Linked DNA regions of Homo sapiens. The protein of the gene in region 1 purifies or fractionates together with the protein of each later gene. This does not show direct contact. Each region holds a gene or a part of one and is shown in the gene's direction. Other genes may lie near its edges.

What was found.
Region 2: the proteins of ABCB10 (region 1) and IFT43 purify together in Homo sapiens (co-immunoprecipitation; one large-scale study listed by IntAct). This does not show direct contact.
Region 3: the proteins of ABCB10 (region 1) and RFFL purify together in Homo sapiens (co-immunoprecipitation; one large-scale study listed by IntAct). This does not show direct contact.
Region 4: the proteins of ABCB10 (region 1) and C10orf88 purify together in Homo sapiens (co-immunoprecipitation; one large-scale study listed by IntAct). This does not show direct contact.

What each region holds. Positions count from the first base shown.
Region 1 is NC_000001.11:229,544,104-229,549,147, reverse strand, and holds part of ABCB10 (ATP-binding cassette sub-family B member 10, mitochondrial), read left to right. Parts: intron 1-1,446; coding exon 1,447-1,649; intron 1,650-5,044.
Region 2 is NC_000014.9:76,015,961-76,021,004, forward strand, and holds part of IFT43 (intraflagellar transport protein 43 homolog), read left to right. Parts: intron 1-5,044. UniProt on the Homo sapiens protein: As a component of IFT complex A (IFT-A), a complex required for retrograde ciliary transport and entry into cilia of G protein-coupled receptors (GPCRs), it is involved in ciliogenesis.
Region 3 is NC_000017.11:35,011,241-35,016,284, reverse strand, and holds part of RFFL (E3 ubiquitin-protein ligase rififylin), read left to right. Parts: intron 1-1,521; coding exon 1,522-1,545; intron 1,546-4,135; coding exon 4,136-4,317; 3' UTR 4,318-5,044.
Region 4 is NC_000010.11:122,933,215-122,938,171, reverse strand, and holds part of C10orf88 (ATPase PAAT), read left to right. Parts: intron 1-12; coding exon 13-467; intron 468-4,957. UniProt on the Homo sapiens protein: ATPase that regulates mitochondrial ABC transporters ABCB7, ABCB8/MITOSUR and ABCB10. Regulates mitochondrial ferric concentration and heme biosynthesis and plays a role in the maintenance of mitochondrial homeostasis and cell survival.

The sequences.
Region 1 (5,044 bases):
TCCAGGCTCCATTCTCTTCCTCTCTTCCTGGCATCCCATTAAGTGGGGATAGAGTCCAATGACTGCCCAGATGTTGGAGTTACAGATTATTTTAGATCAAGCACTCTCAACTCTTCTTTTATAGTTGAAGTTGAGCTGTAAGGGCAATCATGTCGGTCTTATGGGAGGTTTGAAAATAAGCCCCTCGGGCTGGGTGCCGTGGCTCATGCCTGTAATCCCAGCACTTTGGGAGGCTGAGGCAGGTGGATCATGAGGTCAGGAGTTCGAGACCAGCCTGGCCAACATGGTGAAACCCCGTCTCTACTAGAAATACAAAAATTACCCGGGCGTGGTGGTGTGTGCCTGTAATCTCAGCTACTCAGGAGGCTGAGGCAGGAGAATCGCTTGAACCTGGGAGGCAGAGGTTGCAGTGAGCCCAGATCATACCACTGCACTCCAGCATGGGGGACAGAGCGAGACTCCATCTCAAAAAAAAAAAAAAGAAAAAAAAAGAAAATGAGGCCCCTGGCCATGAAGCTGGACTTCTGAGGCTTCCTGAAGGCTTCAGAAACCCATTTACATGCCCCATGCTTGTGTTTCTCCTTAAGTAGCAGCTGGGATGATAACTTTGTTAGTATTTCTCTGAAGAGGTCTTGTTTTTACAGGCAGGTCACTGCCACAATAATGAGAGAACCTGGGACACCAACTCGAAGTCTGTTGCTCTCCATTTATCTCTGTGGATAATTAACCAATTCTTGCCATTTGAAGGTTCAATACAGGAAAGGGTTTCCAGGGAGGAACAAAATGAGCTTTTGGAAGTTAATGTAATAAAACTTCTTTGTAAATAATACCTTAAAAAAATCTCGGCCAAGTGTGGTGGCTCATGCCTGTAATCCTAGCACTTTGGGAGGCTGAGGCAGGAGGATTGCTTGAGCCCATGAGTTTGAGACCAGCCTGAGCTACATAGCAAGACTCCGTCTATATAAAAAATAAAAATAAGTTAGCTGGGTGTAGTGGCGGACATCTGTAGTTTCAGCTACCCAGGAGGCTGAGGTGGGAGGATGGCTTGAGCCCACAAGGTTGAGGTTACAGTGAACTGTGATCGTGCCACTTCATTCAGGCCTGGGTGATAGAGCAAGACCCAGTCTCTTAAAAAAAAAAAAAAAGTAAAAATAAAAAAGGCCTCTGAGTCATGTTATATTTATTTTATTCCTGTATCCTCTCACTAGCGCCCACAGTCTGTAGTTAATAAGAGAAAAGTAGTGTTAGTAGTGCATGACAGTTAATGTGCCTGGTTTGGGAAAGTCTCTTTCCACCCATGGGATACAGTGCAGCAGACACGCTCAGAGGCTGCATTGCTCAGGAGGGTTACAACTCCAGGCCAAGCTGCTGCACAGTAAGTGGCTGCCCCATAATGGTAATGGATGTCTTTACCCTTGGTGAGCCTGTTCGTGTTTGCTTTTGCAGGTCAGCGCATTGTGAATAGGCTGAGAACTTCATTATTCTCCTCCATTCTGAGGCAGGAGGTTGCTTTCTTTGACAAGACTCGCACAGGAGAATTGATTAACCGCCTCTCATCAGACACTGCACTCCTGGGGCGCTCAGTGACTGAAAACCTCTCAGATGGGCTCAGGGCCGGGGCCCAGGCTTCCGTAGGCATCAGTATGATGGTATGTGGGCCTGGTTCCCCTTGGTACCTTCCTGCCAGGGCTTGGCTTGCACCAGGCCTCTCACGTGTGAGACGAGCTCAAGCTGAGCGGTTCGCATCATTCTGTAAGTGCCTAGAGCCAAAAGTGCTGTTGCAGAAGCTGCTGGAACGTGGGGATTGCCTCTGCCTGCATGGCCTCTTGTACCTTCATTTCTCCAGAATGAGTGATTATCTGGAAAATGGACTCATGTGTTACTGCTGGGTATTCTGAGATGTGTGTACCCGGGGTATTAAGGCAGAAAAGAGCATCAGGTAGAAGGAGCACTGGGTACTACCCTGTGGGTGGCACCAAGCGGTGACTAAATTCCATTCCTCTGTGTGTGTAAGTCGAACTGTGCTCTTTTAAGGGGAGAGCTCTTCACTCCCATGGCCTTTTTTCCTTTCCTTAACTGGGTGGCTTGTGCCTGTCCTGTCTGCTTGCCTTACCTCTTCAACCAGTATTTCTATTCAGCCCAGTGCTGCAGGTCATTGGAGAGGCAATGCAAGCCACATATGTGATTTTAATGTTTTAGTAGCCACATTTAAAAAAGCAAAAAGAAGCCAATGAGATTAATTTTTTTTTTAATTTTAATTTTTTTAGAGACAGTCTCACTCTGTTACCCAGGCTGGAGTACAGTGGCAAGATCATAGCTCACTGCAGTCTTAAACTCCTGGGCTCAAGTGATTCTCCCACCTCAGTCTCCCAAGTATCTGGGACTACAGGCACACACCACCAAGTCTGGCTAATTTAAAGAATATATATATATATTTTTTGTAGAGGCAGGGTCTCTCTATGTTGCCCAGGCTGGTCTCAAACTCTTGGCCTCAAGTGATCCTCCTGCCTCGGCCTCCTGAAGTGCTGGGATTACAGGCTTGAGCCACTGTACCTGGCTGAGATTAATTTTAATAATGTTTTGTTTAAGCCAGTATAAACAAAATATTGTCATCTCAAGATGTAATTAATATCAAAATTATTAATGAGGTATTTTATATTATTTCTTTCATATTATAGTTGACCCTTGAACAATGCAGGGGTTGGGACACTGAAGCCCACACAGTCAAAAATCAAAGTATAACTTTTGACTCCCTAAAAACTCAACTACTAATAGCCTACTGTTGACCAGAAGCCTTACTGATAACATTAACAGTCAATTACCATGTATTTGGTATATGTATTATATACTATGTTCTTATAACAGAGTAAGCTAGAAAAAAGAAATGGTATTAAGAAAATCATAAGGAAGGTAAAATATATTTATTATTTATTAAGTGGAAGTGGATCATCATAAAAGCTTTTTTTTTTTTTTTTTGAGACGGAGTATCGCACTGTCATCCGGGCTGAAGTGCAATGGCACGATCTTGGCTCACTGCAACCTCCTCCTCCCGGGTTCAAGTGATTCTCCTGCCTCAGCCTCCCGAGTAGCTGGGATTATAGGTGCCAGCCACCACGCCTCGCTAATTTTTTTGTATTTTTAGTAGAGATGGGGTTTCACTATGTTGGCCAGGCTGGTCTTGAACTCCTGACCTCGTGATCTGCCTGCCTCAGCCTCCCAAAGTGTTGGGATTGCTGGCGTGAGCCACTGCGCCCGGCTCATCACAAAAGTATTTATCCTCATTGTCTTCACACTGAGTAGACTGAGAGGAGGAAGAAAGGTTGTTCTTGCTGTCTCAGGGGTGGCAGAGATGGAAGAAAATCTATGTATAAGTTGACCCATGCATTTCAGACCAATGTTGTTCAAAGGTCAACTGAATTTCCAAATCTGGTGTGTATTCTCTACTTAAGGAACATCTTAATTCGGATGCTAAATTTTCATTGAAAGTACTTGATCTATATTTAGATTTTATAAAATGTACAATTGAAAAAGTAGTTTGACATACTCAAGTTTTCCAGACATACTTAATAGTTTGCCAATAACTGAATGGAGTATAGGCTTTTAAATTTTAATTAAACCTAAATACAATTAAAAAGTCAATGTCTCAGTCATACCTGCCACATTTCAAGTTTCCAGTAGGGCTATCGTTTTGGGCAGTGCAGTTCTAGACTCGTGGAATAAGAACTGTAAATAATCCTTTCTCACAAGTGGAAAAGCTTGGATTCTGTCCTTTGTGTCCCATGAAGCACTTAGAGAGGAAGGGTGTGTTGCCTATTAGATCTGACTTACGGAATGAAAAACAGCTTTGAAATCTCATGATTTTCCAGCTAAGAGAGAAGCAAACCTCTGGAAGAGGACCCTTCCTGCACTAACATGCCGTTTTCCAAATATGAATAGTTTTGGGGATCAGGAAGAGTTCAAGCTGGGAAAAATCACTTGGGGTACTTTTTGTAACAAGGAAAGGGAATTCAGTGTAGGTCAGATGAGCAATTCAAAGGGGTCTGTTTGGGATGCCATAATAATACCACAGACTGGGTGGCTGAAACAACAGAAATGTATTTCTCACAATTCTGGAGGTTAGAAGTCCAGGGTCAAGGTGCTAGCAAAATAGTTTCATTCTGAGGCCTTTTCTTGTGGCTTGGCTGAAACAACAGAAATGTATTTCTCACAATTCTGGAGGTTAGAAGTCCAGGGTCAAGGTGCTAGCAAAATAGCTTCATTCTGAGGCCTTTTCTCTTGGCTGGTAGGCAGCTGCCATCTTGCCATGTGCTCACATAGTGGAGAGAGAGTGTGCTCTAGTGTCTCTTATAAGGACACTAATCCTATTGGATCATGGCCCCACACTTAACGACCTCATTTAACCTTAGTTACTTTCTTAGAGGCCCCATCTCCAAATACAGCCATGGTGGGGATTAAGGCTTCAACATGTGAATTTCAGGGGGAATTTCCATTCAGTCTGTAAAAGGGCCTCAGGAAGTGGCTTCACCTAGGATCTGATCTTTGGCTCTAGGGGATCAGAAATGTGACTTTGTTTCTCCTGCACAAACTCATGGACCTGACATAGGGGAAGTCCAGTTATGAGAACCTGATATTGTGTATGGCATACTGCCAATTTATTAATTTACATAGTGGGCCTACCCACCATTAAGTTGTGTTTCTGCTATTCCTTTTTTTTTTTTTTTTTTTTTTTTTGAGAGAAGGTCTCACCCTGTTGCCTAGGCTGTAGTGCAGTGGTGTCATCTTGGCTCACTGCAACCTCTGCCTCCCGAGCTCGAGTGATCCTCCCACGTCAGCCTCCTGAGTAGCTGGAACCACAGGCGTGCGCCACCATGCCCGGCTAATTTTTGTATTTTTTATAGAGACAGTGTCTCACCATGTTGCCCAGCCCACTGGTTTTGAACTCCTGGGCTCAAGCGATCCGCCTGCCTCAGCCTCCCGAAATGCTAGGATTACAGACGTGAGCCACTATGCCTAGCCCATTTCTGCTATTCAAAACACTTCATTA
Region 2 (5,044 bases), on another chromosome or scaffold:
TTGTGTGTCATCTTTTGAGATTCTTTTCAGATCCTTTGCCTGCTTTTTAATGGGACTTTTTTGGGTTTTTTGCTATTGAATTGTTTGAGTTTCTTGCATATTCTGGATGCTCGTTTCTTGTTGGATAAATAGTTTGCAGATATCTTCTCCTATAGTTTATCCTTACACTGTGTTAATTGTTTCATTTGCTGTGCAGAAGGTTTCTTTTAGTAGTTTTTATACTGTCAGGTCTTACATTTAAATCTTTAATCCATTTTGATTTGATTTTTGTATATGGTGAGAGATGGGGGCTCTGGTTTTATTCTTCTGTGTATGGAAATCCGGTTTTCCCAGCACCACTTATTGAGGAGACTGTTCTTTCCCTAATATGTTGTAGGTGTTGTTTTCAAAAATCGTTTGGCTAGAAATACATGGATTTATTCCTTGGTTTTCTATTCTCTTCCTTTGATCTATTTGTTTTTATACCAATATTATGCTGTTTTGGTTACTATAGCTTTGTAGTATTATATATTTTGAAGTCAAATAGTGTGATGCCTCCATCTTTGTTCTTTTTGCCCAATGTTGCATTGGCTATTCAGGCCCTTTTGTGGTCCCATATAAATTTTAGGGTTGTTTTTTCTGTTTCTGTGAAGAATATCGTGGGTATTTTGATAGAATTGTATTGAACCTGTAGATTCCTTTGGGTAGTACAGTCATTCTAACAATATTAATTCTTCTGATCCATAAGCATGGGATGTCTATTTGTTTATGTCTTCTTCAATTTCTTTCGTTAGTGTTCTGTAATTTTCGTTGTAGAAGTCTTTCACCTTCTTGGATAAATGTATTCCTAAGTATTTTTTTTGTAGCTATTATAAATGGGATTGCTTTCCTGATTTATTTTTCAACTAGTTTGTTATTGGTGTGTAAAAACACTACTGATTTTTGTGTGTTGATTTCGTATCCTGCAACTTCACTGAATTCATTTATTCATTCTAAGAATTTTTTGATGCAATCTTTAGGTTTTTGTATTTATAAGATCATATCATCTGCAAAGAGGGACAATTTCACTTCCTGTCTAATTTGGAAGAGTTTTATTTCTTTCTCTTGACTGATTACTCTGGCTAGAACTTCCAGGACTATGTTAAATAAAAGTGGTGAAAGTGGACATCCTTGTCTTGTTCCAGTTCTTAGAGGAAAAATGTTCAGCTTTTCTCCATTAAGTACGATGTTAGCTGTGGGTTTGTCGTATGTGGCCTTTATTAAGTTGAGGACTGATTTGTTCCTTCTGTGCCTGATTTGCTGAGAATTTTTATTATGAAGGGATGTTCAATCATATCAAATGCTTTTTCTGCATCTATTAAGATGATAATGTGGTTTTTATCCCTCATTCTATTGGTGTTATATATCAGATTTATTGATTTGCTTGTGTTGAACCCTCCTTGCATCCCTGGGATAAATCCCAGTTGATCATGGTGTATTATCTTTTTGATGTGTTGTTGGATTCAGTTTGCTCGTATTTTGTTGGGGATTTTTGCATCCTATGTTCATCAGGGATGTTGGCCTATAGTTGTTGTTGTTGTGGTGGTTGTGTCCTTATCTGGTTTTGGTGTCAGAGTAATACTGGCTTTGTAGATGAGTTAGGAAGAATTTCCTCCCATTCAATTTTTGGGAATAGACTGAGAAAAATTGGTGTTTGTTCTTTTAAGTTTGGTAGAATTCAATAGTAAAGCTATCTAGTCTTGGGCTTTTCTTTGTTGGGAGGCTTTTTATTACTGATTCAATCTCATTACTTGTTAGTGGTCTGTTCAGGTTTTCTATTTCTTCCTGGTTCAATCTTGGTAGGTTGTACGTGTCCAGGAATTTGTCCATTTCCTCTAGGATTTCCAATTTATTAGTATATACTTGTTCATAATAGTCTCTTATGATCCTTTGTATTTCTGTGGTATCAGTTGTAATGTCTCTTTTCTCATTTATGATTTTATTTATTTGGGTCTTCTCTCTTTTTTCTTGGTTGGTCTAGCTAGCAGTTTACTAATTTTGTTTATCTTTTCAAAAAACTATCTTTTGTTTCATTGATCGTTTGTATTTTTTTAAGTCTCTATTTTGTTTAGTTCTGCTCTGATTTTATTATTTCTTTCCTTCTAGTGATTTGGGGTTTAGCTGGTTCCTGCATTTCTAGTTCCCTGAGGTGTGTTGTTAGCTTGTTCATTCAGAATCTTTCCTTTTTTTTTTTGATGTAGGTATTCATTGCTATACTTCCCTCTTGGCTCTGCTTTTGCTGTATCCCATAGGTTTTTGTATGTTGTGTTTCTGTTTTCATTTGTTTCAAGAAATTTTTTAATTTTCTTCTTAATTTCTTCATTGATCCAGTGGTTGTTCAGGAGCATGTTGTTTAATTTCTATGTATTTGTACAGTTTCCATAATTCCTCTTGTTATTGATTTCTAGTTTTATTCCATTGTCATCTGAAAGATACTTGATATGATTTTGGTTTTTAAAAATTTCTTGACATTTGTTTTGTGGCCTAACATATGGTCTATTCTGGAGAATGTTCCACGTGCTGATGAGAAGAATGTGTGTTCTGCGGCTATTGGATGAAATGTTTAGTAAATGTCTGTTAGTTTCATTTGGTTTAAAGTGCAGTTTAAATTCCCAGTTTTCTTTATTGGTTTTCTGTCTAGATGATCTCTCCAGTGCTGACAGTTGGATGTTGAAGTCACCAACTATTATTGTATTGGAGTCTATTTAGATCTAATAATATTTGCTTTTTATTATCTGGAGGCTCCAGTGTTGGGTACATATATATTTAGAACTGTTATATTGATCCCCTTATCATTATAGAATGACCTTCTTTACAGTTTTTGACTTAAAGTCTGTGTTATCTCATGTAAGTATAGCTTCTCCTGCTTGCTTTGGGTTCTTATTTGCAGGAATTTTTTTCCATCCCTTCACTTTTAGTCTATGTGTGTCTTTATAAGTGAAGTAAGTTTCTTATAGGCAGCAAATAGTGATGCTTTTTAATTTAGCCAGCCAGTTTAGTGAGGAGTTTAATCCATTTACATTCAAGGTTATTATTGATGGCTAAGGACTTATTTCTGCCATTTTATTAATTGTTTTCTGGTTGTTTTATATATCCTTTTTTCCTTACTTCCTCTTTTAAGTTTTATCATTGCAGTTTGATGGTTTTCTGAAGTGGTAATGTTTGAATTCTTTCTCTTTCCCATTTGTGTATCTGTTCTACTAGTGAGTTTTATACTGTCTTGTGTTTTCATGATGGTATATATTGTTCTTTCACTTCCATATGTAGGACTCCCTTAATAATTTATTGAAAGGCTTGTCAGTGGTGATGAATTCCCTCTGGTTTTGCTTATCTGGGAAGGACTTTATTTCTCCTTCATTTTTGAATAATAGCTTTGCTGGGTATAGTAATCATAGCTGCCTTTTTTTTTTTCCCTTTCAGCACTTTGAATATATCATCCCAAACTTTCCTGGCCCGTAAGGTTTCTGCTGGGAATTCCCTTTTATGTGACTTGACACTTTCCTCCTGTTGTTTTTTTGAATTTTATCTTTGTCTTTGACTTGACATTTTGATTATAATGTGCCTTGGAGAAGATCTTTTTGAGGTGAATCTATTTTGAGACCTTCAAGCTTCCTGTATCTGAATATCTATATCTCTTTCAAGACTTGAGAAGTTTTCAGCTATTATTGCATTAATAGGTTTTCAATACCTTTGCCCATCTCTTCTTCTGAGACTTCAAAAATTTTAATACTTGTTTTCTTTATGGTGTTGCATATGTCAAGTAGGCTTCCTTTATTCTTTTTTCTTTTTTGTCTGAGTTATTTCAAAAGACCTGTCCTCAAGTTCTGAAATTCTTTTTCTCCTGCTTGATCTAGTTTATTATTGAAGCTCTTGATTGTATTTTTTCTTTCTTTCATTGACTTCTTCAGTTCCAGGATTTCTATTTGGTTCTTTTTTATGATGTTTATCTCTTTATTGACTTTCCCATTCAGATCATGAATCATTTTTCTGATTTGTTTGTACTCTTTTTTTTTTGGAGACGGAATCTCTCCCTGTTGCCAGGCTGGAGTATAGTGGCGCAATCTCAGCTCACTGCAACCTCTGACTTCCTGGTTCAAGTGATTCTCCTGCCTCAGCCTCCTGAGTAGCTAGGATTACAGGCATGCGCCACCACGCCCAGCTAATTTTTGTATTTTTAGTATAGATGGGGTTTCACCATGTTGGCCAGGATGGTCTCTATCTCCTGACCTTGTGATCTGCCCGTCTTGGCCTCCCAAAGTGCTGAGATTATAGGCATGAGCCACCGCACCCGGCCTTCTTTGTACTCTTTATCTGTGTTCTCTCATACCTCACTGAGTTTCTTTAATATCATTGTTTTGAATTCTTTTTTATCCATTTCATGGATTGTCTTTTCATTGGGATCTGTTACTGGAGAATTATTGTGTTCCTTTAAAGGTGTCATGTTTCCTTGCTTTTTCATGTTTCCTGTGTTCTTACATTGATATCTGTGTATCTGGTGTAATAGTTGCATCTTCCAGTCTTATGGATTGACTTCCATAAGAAAAGACTTCCCTATAGATGTATCTATGGTGTTGGTAGGGTGGGGTGCTTTGGCTTTGATTCTGGGTGGGTGCAGTGATGTAGTTTTTATATATCTTCAGCTGTAATCAGCATCAGTGGGTATCTATGGGTTCTTTAGTGGCTTAGGCTATAGTTGTTATTGGAGGCTGTGACAAGGCTTTATTGCAAATGGGGATACCAAGTGGGCTGGTCCTTAGGCACCAGTGGTAGTGGTGGCAAGCCAGGTATGCTAGTCCCTGGGCCCCCCAGGTGGTGTACATGGGTTCTGGTGATGGTGGATCTGGGCAGGTCAGTCCTTAGGCCTCCAGTGCCTTGCTCAGGTGCCGGGGGTGGCAGTGGTGGGCCAGGTGAGCCAGTCCCCAGGTAGTGCATGTGGGTGGGTGGTGGCTGCAAGCTGGGTAGACTGGCCATCAGGCTTTTGGGAGACATACATGGACACTGGTGGCAGGCAGGGTAGGCCTATTCC
Region 3 (5,044 bases), on another chromosome or scaffold:
TTTCCACACTTAAGCCATGGAAGGAGACACCTTACATATTTGCACCGTCTAATAATAGCTGTCATTTGTGGTTGAGTGTCAAAACTAGATTAGGCATTGCATGTATGTATTTATTCCTTAGAGCAACCTATGAAATAGACATTATTAGCATCACCCCTTTATCTGAAAGGTAAAATTTAACTGAAAATTTTATGGTCTAAGTCCATAGCCTTTCTCACCATATGCTATCCCCTCCCTACTCACCACCACCTTGTAAGTTTTCTTACCTTAGAATAAGAATGCTTGTTCTGAAGATTTGGGAGGTAGAAAGTGAATCTACATACATGGCAGGAGAAGATAGCTGTTCCATCTGCACTTGGGCTCTTCCTTTTGTTCATTTCCCAGAGCATTTTACACTGTATCATTCAGGAGATGCCCAGGAAAATATCTGGGTCTGTGGTTAAATGAGTTTAGGGAAAAATACCTCATATCTTCATTACTGATTTATGGTAGATTTTTATATTAAAGGCAGAGAAGTCCTGCAGAAGAGAAATGTGTTTTGGCTGTTTTGAACTTAGCATTTCCTGAAATTATTTCACCACAGAATCTTCTCCTTTCCTCCCATCCCCAGTTGATTTGGTTCCTACAGAGCAACATACTGATTCCTTGCTTGGTAAGAGTGGTTGAAGTCAGGTTTCAGGCTCTCTTCTACCAGTAGCTCAAATTCATCAGTGTTAGGGGTCATCTGACTGACTCTTCACCCGATTACAGACTGAGGCCTACTGACATGGAGTCTGTTTTCCCTTTGGGATTGTTTCAAGAGTCTTCTCTCCAGTCGTCAGGACCTGGGGAACAGAACAGATGACTCCACGTGGGAACTTTATCCAGATTCTCTGACTGACTGAAACAGCTAGATAGTTCATTCTTTCTTGACTTTAATGCTGACTTCAAAATAGAAAAGGATATTGCACATATACAGTATCCTTCTACTTGGCAGTTTGTGCAAACTGGTGGAATACCTTTTCCTAAGAGTAGACCAGGCTGGGTGTGTTGGCTTATGCCTGTAATCCCAGCACTCTGGGAGGCTGAGGCAGGTGGATCACTTGAGATCAGGAGTTCAAGACCAGCATAGGCAACATGGTGAAACACCATCTCCACCAAAAACAAAAAATTAGCCGGGAGTGGTGGCATGTGCCTGTAGTCCCCAGGTACTCAGGAGGCCGAGGCAGGAGAATCGCTTGAACCCATGAGAAAGAGGTTGCAGTGAGCCAAGATCATGCCACTGCACTCCAGCCTGGGCAAGAGAGTGAGGCTCCATCTCAAAAAAATAAAAAATAAAAGTAGACCAGATGCACGAGTAGGAGCTTTGTGTGAGTTCTGAGCATGTAGAGCGAGTAGAGGGCAGATGTCCATCTAGGCTCTTGGCAAGCCTGGTTCCCAGCAGGGAGTGGTAAGAGTTCAGAAATGATGTCAGGGCAGTAAGAGACTGTATTTGTACCATCATGCCTTACCTATTCAGACATCCTTCTCTTTCCTTTTCAGTCAGTGGTGCCGAAGACCAAAACGGTATGTAGTTGTTTCTGTTTGGGAATGGGCTTAGGCCCTTTTGTCCTTCCCCTCCTTCAACCCCAATCCCTTTAGTAATCTAAGAATTCTGAGCATTTGAGCCCCCAGAGAGAGGGTGTGTGGGAAACTCACTGAGACCCAGGGGGCCTCTCACCATCTTTAGAAATTCTCTCTGCTCGCTGTGCAGGAAGCAGAGTGGAGCATACGTAGGGGCGGACTGACTGATGTGCATGTCCCTGGGCTACCTGAGCTCATAAGCCAACATTTGTAAAACACTGAAACAGAGGAGGGGTGGCATGTATCACACTCAGCTCATTTTTTAAAATCTTGGTGTTTTCAGTTCTGGTCTGGGTAGGGAGGGTCTCTGTGTACACCTTCTGGGGAATCAGGGTGTTTAGCAGCTTCTGGTACTAACCAAAAAGAAAGGGTGGTGACCTGAGACAGCCCTGTTTGTACAGGGCTGGTAATGGTTAGAGCTACTCTGGAGCTAACACATGTGCTACTCTCTGGGCACAAGCTATATATCTCAGCTCAGCTGCCACTCACTTAAAGACCACCACTGGGCCCTCAGGTACTCCCAGAACACACTGCAGAACTCCTGACCATCTGTGGGGACATTCTAAAATATGCTATGTGTTTTCAAAAGCCTCAAGGGTATATGGTTGTGAACTCCCTTCCAAGAGAGAACGTTCTAAGAGTAGTGTTGGACTAGCCTGCAGCATTTTAAAACTTATTTCAGAAGATTTCCCAAATTTATTTAGTAAAATGGCCTTTTGCTCAGAATGGGCAATTTTATGTCTGATTACTTCTAATCAGACATAAAAAACAGTTGAGCTTTTCTCAATTCCCCAAAACCATTTGGAGTTCTAGACCCACCTCCACCCTCCAACCCCCCAGCATCACCGGTACCAAGATCAGGCTGATCTACTTGGTGCTTCCTTTCTTTTTCTGATTCCCTGGGAGAATGCTGACAACTGAGTTAATGTGTTTGTTGTTACTTCTGAGAGAATGAGTAACTGAAAATTATAAATTATTCCCATTCATCTTAGGTATTTGTATAGTCTCCAAACCTCTGTTAGGACCAACAGCACCTCAAAAGAGGCAAATGGGTTTCACTCCCTTTCACACCCAGCCTACCTCCTAGGGGGAAGTATTTCTTGACTTTTTAATAGTCCAGAAAAGAGAAAGTATAGATGCAATAAGGGAGAATTCCTCTATGGGTTGGCCAACCCCCAGATGGTAGAGGTGACTTCTGTGAGATCAGTTCCTTTTTATGGGTACCTACTTCAGGCTACAATTTAAGACATATTGGAGATGGCTGGGCTTTTGAACATTATTTTTTCTGTTTGGGTCAGCTCTACTAGGATACTGGTCATGCCCACTATATTCTGCTAGTGACACAAGCCAGTTAGCATTTATTGAGAACCCTGTGCACTCAGCAGTTGATACTGTCTGGATAGTTTCTACTCTTAGGGCAGTTAGGCAGAAGGCCATTCTAGAGCAGGAGCTGTGGGGCCAGCCTGCCTGGGTTTGAATCCTGGCTCCTCGACTTAGCAGCTTTGTGCCCTTGGGCAAGCCACTTAACTTTTTTGCCCCAGTTGGCCTCATCTATAAAATGAAAATAACAAGAGGTCCTACTTTATAGTTTTTGTGAGGCTTCAGTGAGTTAACACATGCAAAGCTTTCAGGACCCTGCCTGGCACACGGTAAGCATTCAGTAAATGTGGGATGTTGTCATTCCCTTGGGAAGATGTTCATTCATCAGACATTTAGAGTACCTACCATATAACTGGCATTGGGGGCTTCAAAGATGAATATCTAACCTTGGAGCATGGAATAAATGCTAAGCATATAATTGTAAAAATTGATTGAATATGTTGAATTAAAGAGCTCATAGTCTACTCTGGGAGTAAGTAGGCAAACTCAAAATTTTAATCCAATGTGATAAGCAGTCATGGGGGTATAAAAAAGTTTTGTGGGGGTAGAAAGAGGGAGCAGTAATCTCTGCCAAGTTTCTCCACCAGGAAGTTTCCTCAGGAAACCTGGGAGTAGTTTGTGAGATAGCAGAGGGGTCCCCCATGATCCCTGACTTTATTAAATGGAGGATATGTTTATAGATAAAGCCTTGTGATCCTTAATGAACCATTCATCACAGTTCCATTTCTATCTAAACTTTTCTGAACCAGTTTTATCTTTTTAGCCTGTTCTGCCTCAGGGGATAATGAGTCCCTACGTGCCACTCACACACTCACTATATTACAGCCCCAACAGTCTGAAAATTATTTCTTTTAAGCTTTGAGAACTTTGCCTTAGTTCTCATGTTCTGGGATGTGTCTGATCCACAAGTGCTGTGTACTTTTCAAATCTTTACCTGTTGGAGGGGATGAAGTGTGGATTAAACAAGTAACCAGAGTTGGTTATTGAGGAAATGTTTCCTCGGAGGAGCTCTATTTGAGGGAAGCATGTGCACTGAGACTTTGTTTACAATGTACCTGTTATCTCCCACCTCCCTCCCCCAGTCACCCCTATACACTTAAGACATTCTCCTCACTCCTCTGCCCCTTTTTTTCTGCCCTGTGTGTTTGTACAGGGGGAGCAGTACCATCAGGCTTGGAGGAGAACCTGTGTAAGATCTGCATGGACTCACCCATTGACTGTGTTCTTCTGGAGTGTGGCCACATGGTAACCTGTACCAAGTGTGGCAAGCGCATGAATGAATGTCCCATCTGCCGGCAGTATGTAATCCGAGCTGTGCATGTCTTCCGGTCCTGAGAGCTTGCATCGGTTTCTTCAGTGCCTTACAGGGAAATAGCCTGGGGTGTCTGGGCTCAGGGTTGGCCAGCTTGCAGAGGAGCAAGCTAGTAGAAATATTGCAGGGTTCCCAAAACCAGGTCAAGCAAGATGCCATGTCACCCCTGAGCATGCCTGTCTTCCCAGGGGTGTACCTCTTGGCTGGCAAAGCCCAAGGCCAGTGGGAACTTGTATAAATCACATGGGTATGTTCTTGGTTCAGTGATCTTGGAGTGATGATGGTAACTGATGAACAGAGAACTTTCCAGAACTTGGGTCCTGTCTTCCTCCCTGAACCTAGACAGTTTCACCCCTCCTCCTGTACCCAACCCATCCCCACCCCATATGGGAGATGCTTGCCCATGTGTTTCATCAATCAGAAGTCCTCCTCCCCAGCACATTCGGATTTAAATTTCTGGTCTCTCCGGCTTTCTGTGCTTTAACTATCTTTGCTAAAGTCTCTTGCTACATTGCCTAAATCCATTTGTTTCTTTGGACCAAAAATGTTAGTTTACCAGACCGATAGTGGTCCTTAGGACAGATTTTAGACCAGTAAACTTATCTTTGGTGAGAAATGAAATACAAATGCTATAGAAAAATTTCAAAGTTGTTAAAAGCCACTTCATTAAATGCTGGGATTGGAAGCTGTTGGTCTCCTGACCTGACTCTGGGAGCCAACAAAACATCAGGCTCCCAAACTGCTGGGAAA
Region 4 (4,957 bases), on another chromosome or scaffold:
TACCTTGTTTAGAATTGTATTCCCATTGGAGAGCAGCTTCAGTCGGTGTTGGGCAATTCTGGATACAAGCATATGATTGGACTACAATCCTCATCTACCTTAGGAACCTTAAACAAGTCGTCCTCCACACCTTTTCCTTTTAGAACTGGATTGACATCTGGGAACGTGACTGAAAACTTACAAACTTACATTGATAAAAGTACACAACTGCCTGGTGGAGAGAATTCTACCAAGCTTGATGAGTGTAAAGTTATGCCTCAAAACCATTCCTTTCTTGAAAATGATCTTAAAAATGCAATGGCCTCTTTCTTACCAAAGAAAGTAAGTGACAACTCAAATATACCCAACTCCGAGTTGCTGCCTTTTCTCCAGAATTTATGTAGTCAAGTTAATCATCTCCATGTGGGAAATAAGACCGAGTGTCAGGAAAACATCACCAAGCATGGTGAACGCATTCTTGGTGTTGGGTAAGTATTATTTTAAGACATACGAGTTTCGATTTGGTAGGTGGAAGAATCAGATGAAAGGAAACAGATTTGTCTCAATGAGTACTGCCTAAAATTTGTTTCCAGAGAAAATTTTAGCAACTTTTACATTTTACCATTAATACACTTAAAGGGGATAACTGCAGAGTAGAATGGATTACTTTGAAAGAAGTCCCTATAACTGGAGGTTTTGCACACTTCCCAGGCATTTTGTGGAAGGGTCACAAGTATTAGTTCACAGTTGGAATAGAAAGTGATTTGCATGAATGGAAAGGAGCTGTGGGAATTATAATCTTTATGTTGTTTTTATATATTTGTACTATTTTGTGCCTGGGTATGTTAAGCATGTCATTGTGACATTTTCCTTGAAGATTATGTTTGGTCTAGGCAAATTCCTGATTATTAAAAAACTATATTAGGATAATAATCACTTGTAGTTTACAAGCTATTATCCCCAGTCTCTTAATCCCTTATTTTGGCAGTACATATTTGATTAAGAGATAGCTAAGTATTATGTTCCTAATTGCTTAAGTAGATATAGTATGTCAAAATGGTGTTCTAGACTAGAATTCAGGACTCTAGGTGTGGTTTTGGCTTAAACATGTTGCCACACTGTTTAGTATTCTTTAGCCTAAGAGATTTTATTTGAAAATGAGGTAGTTGGATGATTTTGTAACTAAACGCCACCACCAACCAACAGGATTGAGTTGACATTTATAGAGAACTCTACCAACAATAGCAGAATATACACTTTTTTCAAGCATCTATGGAAGATTTGCAAAGATAGATTATATCTTGAGTCACAAAGCAAATCTGACCAAATTCAAGAGGATTGAAATAATACAATGTGTGTTTTCTGACCATAAATGAATCTAACTAGAAACCAATAAAAGACAACAAAATTTCCAGATTTTTGGGAATTACACAGCATTCTTAAATTTATGGTTCAAGAAAAAGTCTTGACAGAAATTAAACCTATTACACAGAAATGAATGAAAATACAACACATCAAAATTTGTGGGATGCAGTTAAAGAAGTATTGATAAGGATATTTATAGCACTAAATGATTACATTAGAAAAGAGGATTGTTCTTAAATCAGTAGCGTAAAGCTACAGCTCAACCAAAATAAAATAATCTGAATAGTCCTATAACCATTAAAGAAATTGAATTTACAATTTTAAAGCCAAGCAAACTGATCTTAAAGCAAGCAGAAAGAAGGAAATAATAACAGAAATCAGTGTAACTGAAAACAAGCAAACAAAATCAATGAAGCCAAAAGCCAGTTCTTTGAAAATTTCAATAAAATTGATACACTTCAAACAAGACTATCAAAAGATAAAAAGAAGATGCAATCATCAGTATCCGGAATGTAATGAGATGTCACTACTGATCCTAAGGCCGTTAAAAGATAACAAGGGAGGGAATATTACAAACAAATTTATGCTCATAAATTTGACAACTTAGGAGAAATGGATTAATTTCCCCAAAACCACAAACTACCAACCAAACTCAGCCAACATGAAATAAGTAATAAAATAGTCCTATAACCACTAAAAATATTTGATTAATGATTGGAAAGCTCATGAAAAAGAAATATCCAGGCCCAGATGGCTACACTGAAGGTTTCCACTGAACATTTAAAGAACATCAATTTTACATGCTTTTAAAAACTAGAAGAGGAGGGAAGATGTTCCAACTCATTCTGTGAAGTCAGTATTAGCCTGACACCAAACTAGATTGCCCCCCAAAATTAAAATACACAAAAATGCATGTAAATATATGTAAAATATGTAAATCTATAAAAAATACTTATAAAATATATGAAAAAATTTATAAACCTAACAAAATATATAAGGATATGTGAAATGAAAATTATAAAATACTGACAAAGGAAAAGAAAAGCCCTAAAAACTGGAGAGACATACCATATTCATGGATTTGAAGACACAGCATAGTAAAAACGTCAATTCTCTCCTAGTTGATATATAAATTTAATGTAATTCCTATGAAAAATCGAGCATGATTTTTTATAAATATGAATGAGATGATTCTAAAATTTAGAAATGGAGAATTTTTTAAAATGGAAAAATAAAGGAACTATAAAAAATTTTGAAAAAGTGTAAGAGAAATCACTACTTGATTTCAAGACATAGCCACAGTATTCAAGACTGTGTTATTGTCAGAGGCATAGACTTATAGATGGATAGCACAGAAATAACTCTGCACAAGTACACCAACTGACGTTTGACAATGCAAAAATAATTCAATACAGGTAGAATTGTCTTTTTAACCTGTGCTGGAACAGTTGGATATCCACAGGCAAAAAATGAATTGTGACTTAAATCTTATACTTTATGCAAAAATTAACACAAAATTACTTATAGATTAAAATGTAAAATATAAAACTATAAAGCTTTTCTACAGGAGAAACTCTAGGGACCTAGGACTAGGAAATGAGTTCTCAGATATGACATCAAAAGCGTGATCCATAAAATAAAAAACTGATTTATTGGGCCCCATCAAAATGTAAAACTTTTGTTTATGAAAGACACTGTTAGGGGAATTAAAATACAGACTGGGAGAAATTCTTTGCAAATTACAAATCCAGCAAATGACCTGTCTCTGAAGTACATAAAGAACTCTCAAAACTCTATGTTAAAAGCAAATAAAAATAAAACCTAACAATCCAATTTAAACCATGGGCAAAAGAATAGTCATTTCAACAGACAGGATATACAAATAGCAAATAAGCACAAGGAAAGTTGATCAACATTGACTTAGTGACTATTAGGGAAATGCATATTAAAACCACAATATATCACTACATATTTGGATGGCTAAAATTTAAAAATGGTAACAATACCAAATGCTGACAAAGATGTTTGGGAACTGGATCTCTCATACATTGTTGGTAGGAATATAAAATGGTACAGTCACTCTAAAAAATATTTTGGCAATATCTTAAAAACTAAACATACAGTTACCGTACAACCCAGCAATTATACTCCTGGACATCCCAGAGAAATGAAAGCTCAGGTCCACACAGAAACTTGTACACAGTTATTAATAAAAGCTTTCTTTGTAATATCCCAGAAGTCCCAACTAAAATGTCTTAGCAATAGGTGAATGGTTAAACTATGGTACCTCCATATCACGCAGTGCTGATGAGCAGTAAAAAACAACTTGGACATCTCTCAAAGGCATTTTGCTGAGTGACAAAAGAGAATCTCAAAAGGTCACATACTGTATGATCTCACTTTATAATATTTTCAAAATAATAAAACTGTAGAGATGAACAACATATTGATGGTTACCAGGTATTAGGGAAAGAAGACTTTAGGGGAGTAGGTATGACAATAGAGGGGTAGCAGGGAGGAGATCATTGCAGTTAAAGAATGGTTCTGCCTTTTGATTATGGTGGTGTTTAAATAAATATGTGTACATATGATAAAATGGCATAGAACTATACACACACATCATATTAATATCAATTTCCTGGTTTTGATATTGGATTATAGGTAGATAAGATGTGACCATTGGGAGGATTGGATAAAGGGCACTGAGAAACTAATATCTTTGCAACTTCCTGTGAATCCATAATTATTTCAAAATACAGAGTTTCTTAAAAACTGTCTTTGGTGTATTCTAGAGTAGTGGCTCTCAGACTTTTGGTCTTTACACTCTTAATTGAGGACTCCAATAAACTTATGTAGGCTACATAAAAATATTTGTTTAAAAATAACAATAAACCCACTGTATATTAACATAAATAACAGTCTTTATGAAAAAAAGCCAGATTTTCTTTTAAAATTTTATTGAGAATAGTATTATTTTAAATGTACATGAATCTATACATAATAGCTTTTGGCTGCATTATCATGTATATTGAATTATAGCATGTATAGTGAAATATAGCTAGTAAGAGCACAGTAGGAATACTGAGAACAGAGTGGATTAATCTCTGAAAAAGCATATATTTATACACTAAATCTCTACTACCTTGAAATTTTAGGAAAGAAGAATACACAACTACAGATTCTGTTAGTCATCAGGGCAATAACATAGATTTTGTAGCCTCTGGAAAATTCATGAGTATGAGGATGAGAAAGTCGAATAACATCTTAGTATAAACATACTTCTGACCTCAGTGAATTCCCAAAAGAATCATGGAGACCCCAAGGTTCTGTGGACCACATTCTGAGAGTTACTGTTCTTGTTTTGAGACGGAGTCTTATCACCCAGGCTGGAGTGCAGTTGCGCAATCTCAGCTCACTGCAGCCTCTGTCTCCCGGGTTCAAGCAATCCTCCCAGGTAGCTGGGACTACAGGCGCCCACCACCATACCCAGCTAATTTTTGTACTTTTAGTAAGAGACAAGAGTTTCACCATGTTGGCCAGGCTGGTCTCGAACTCCTGACCTCAAGTGATCCACTCACCTCAGCCTCCCAAAGTGCTGGGATTACAGGCGTGA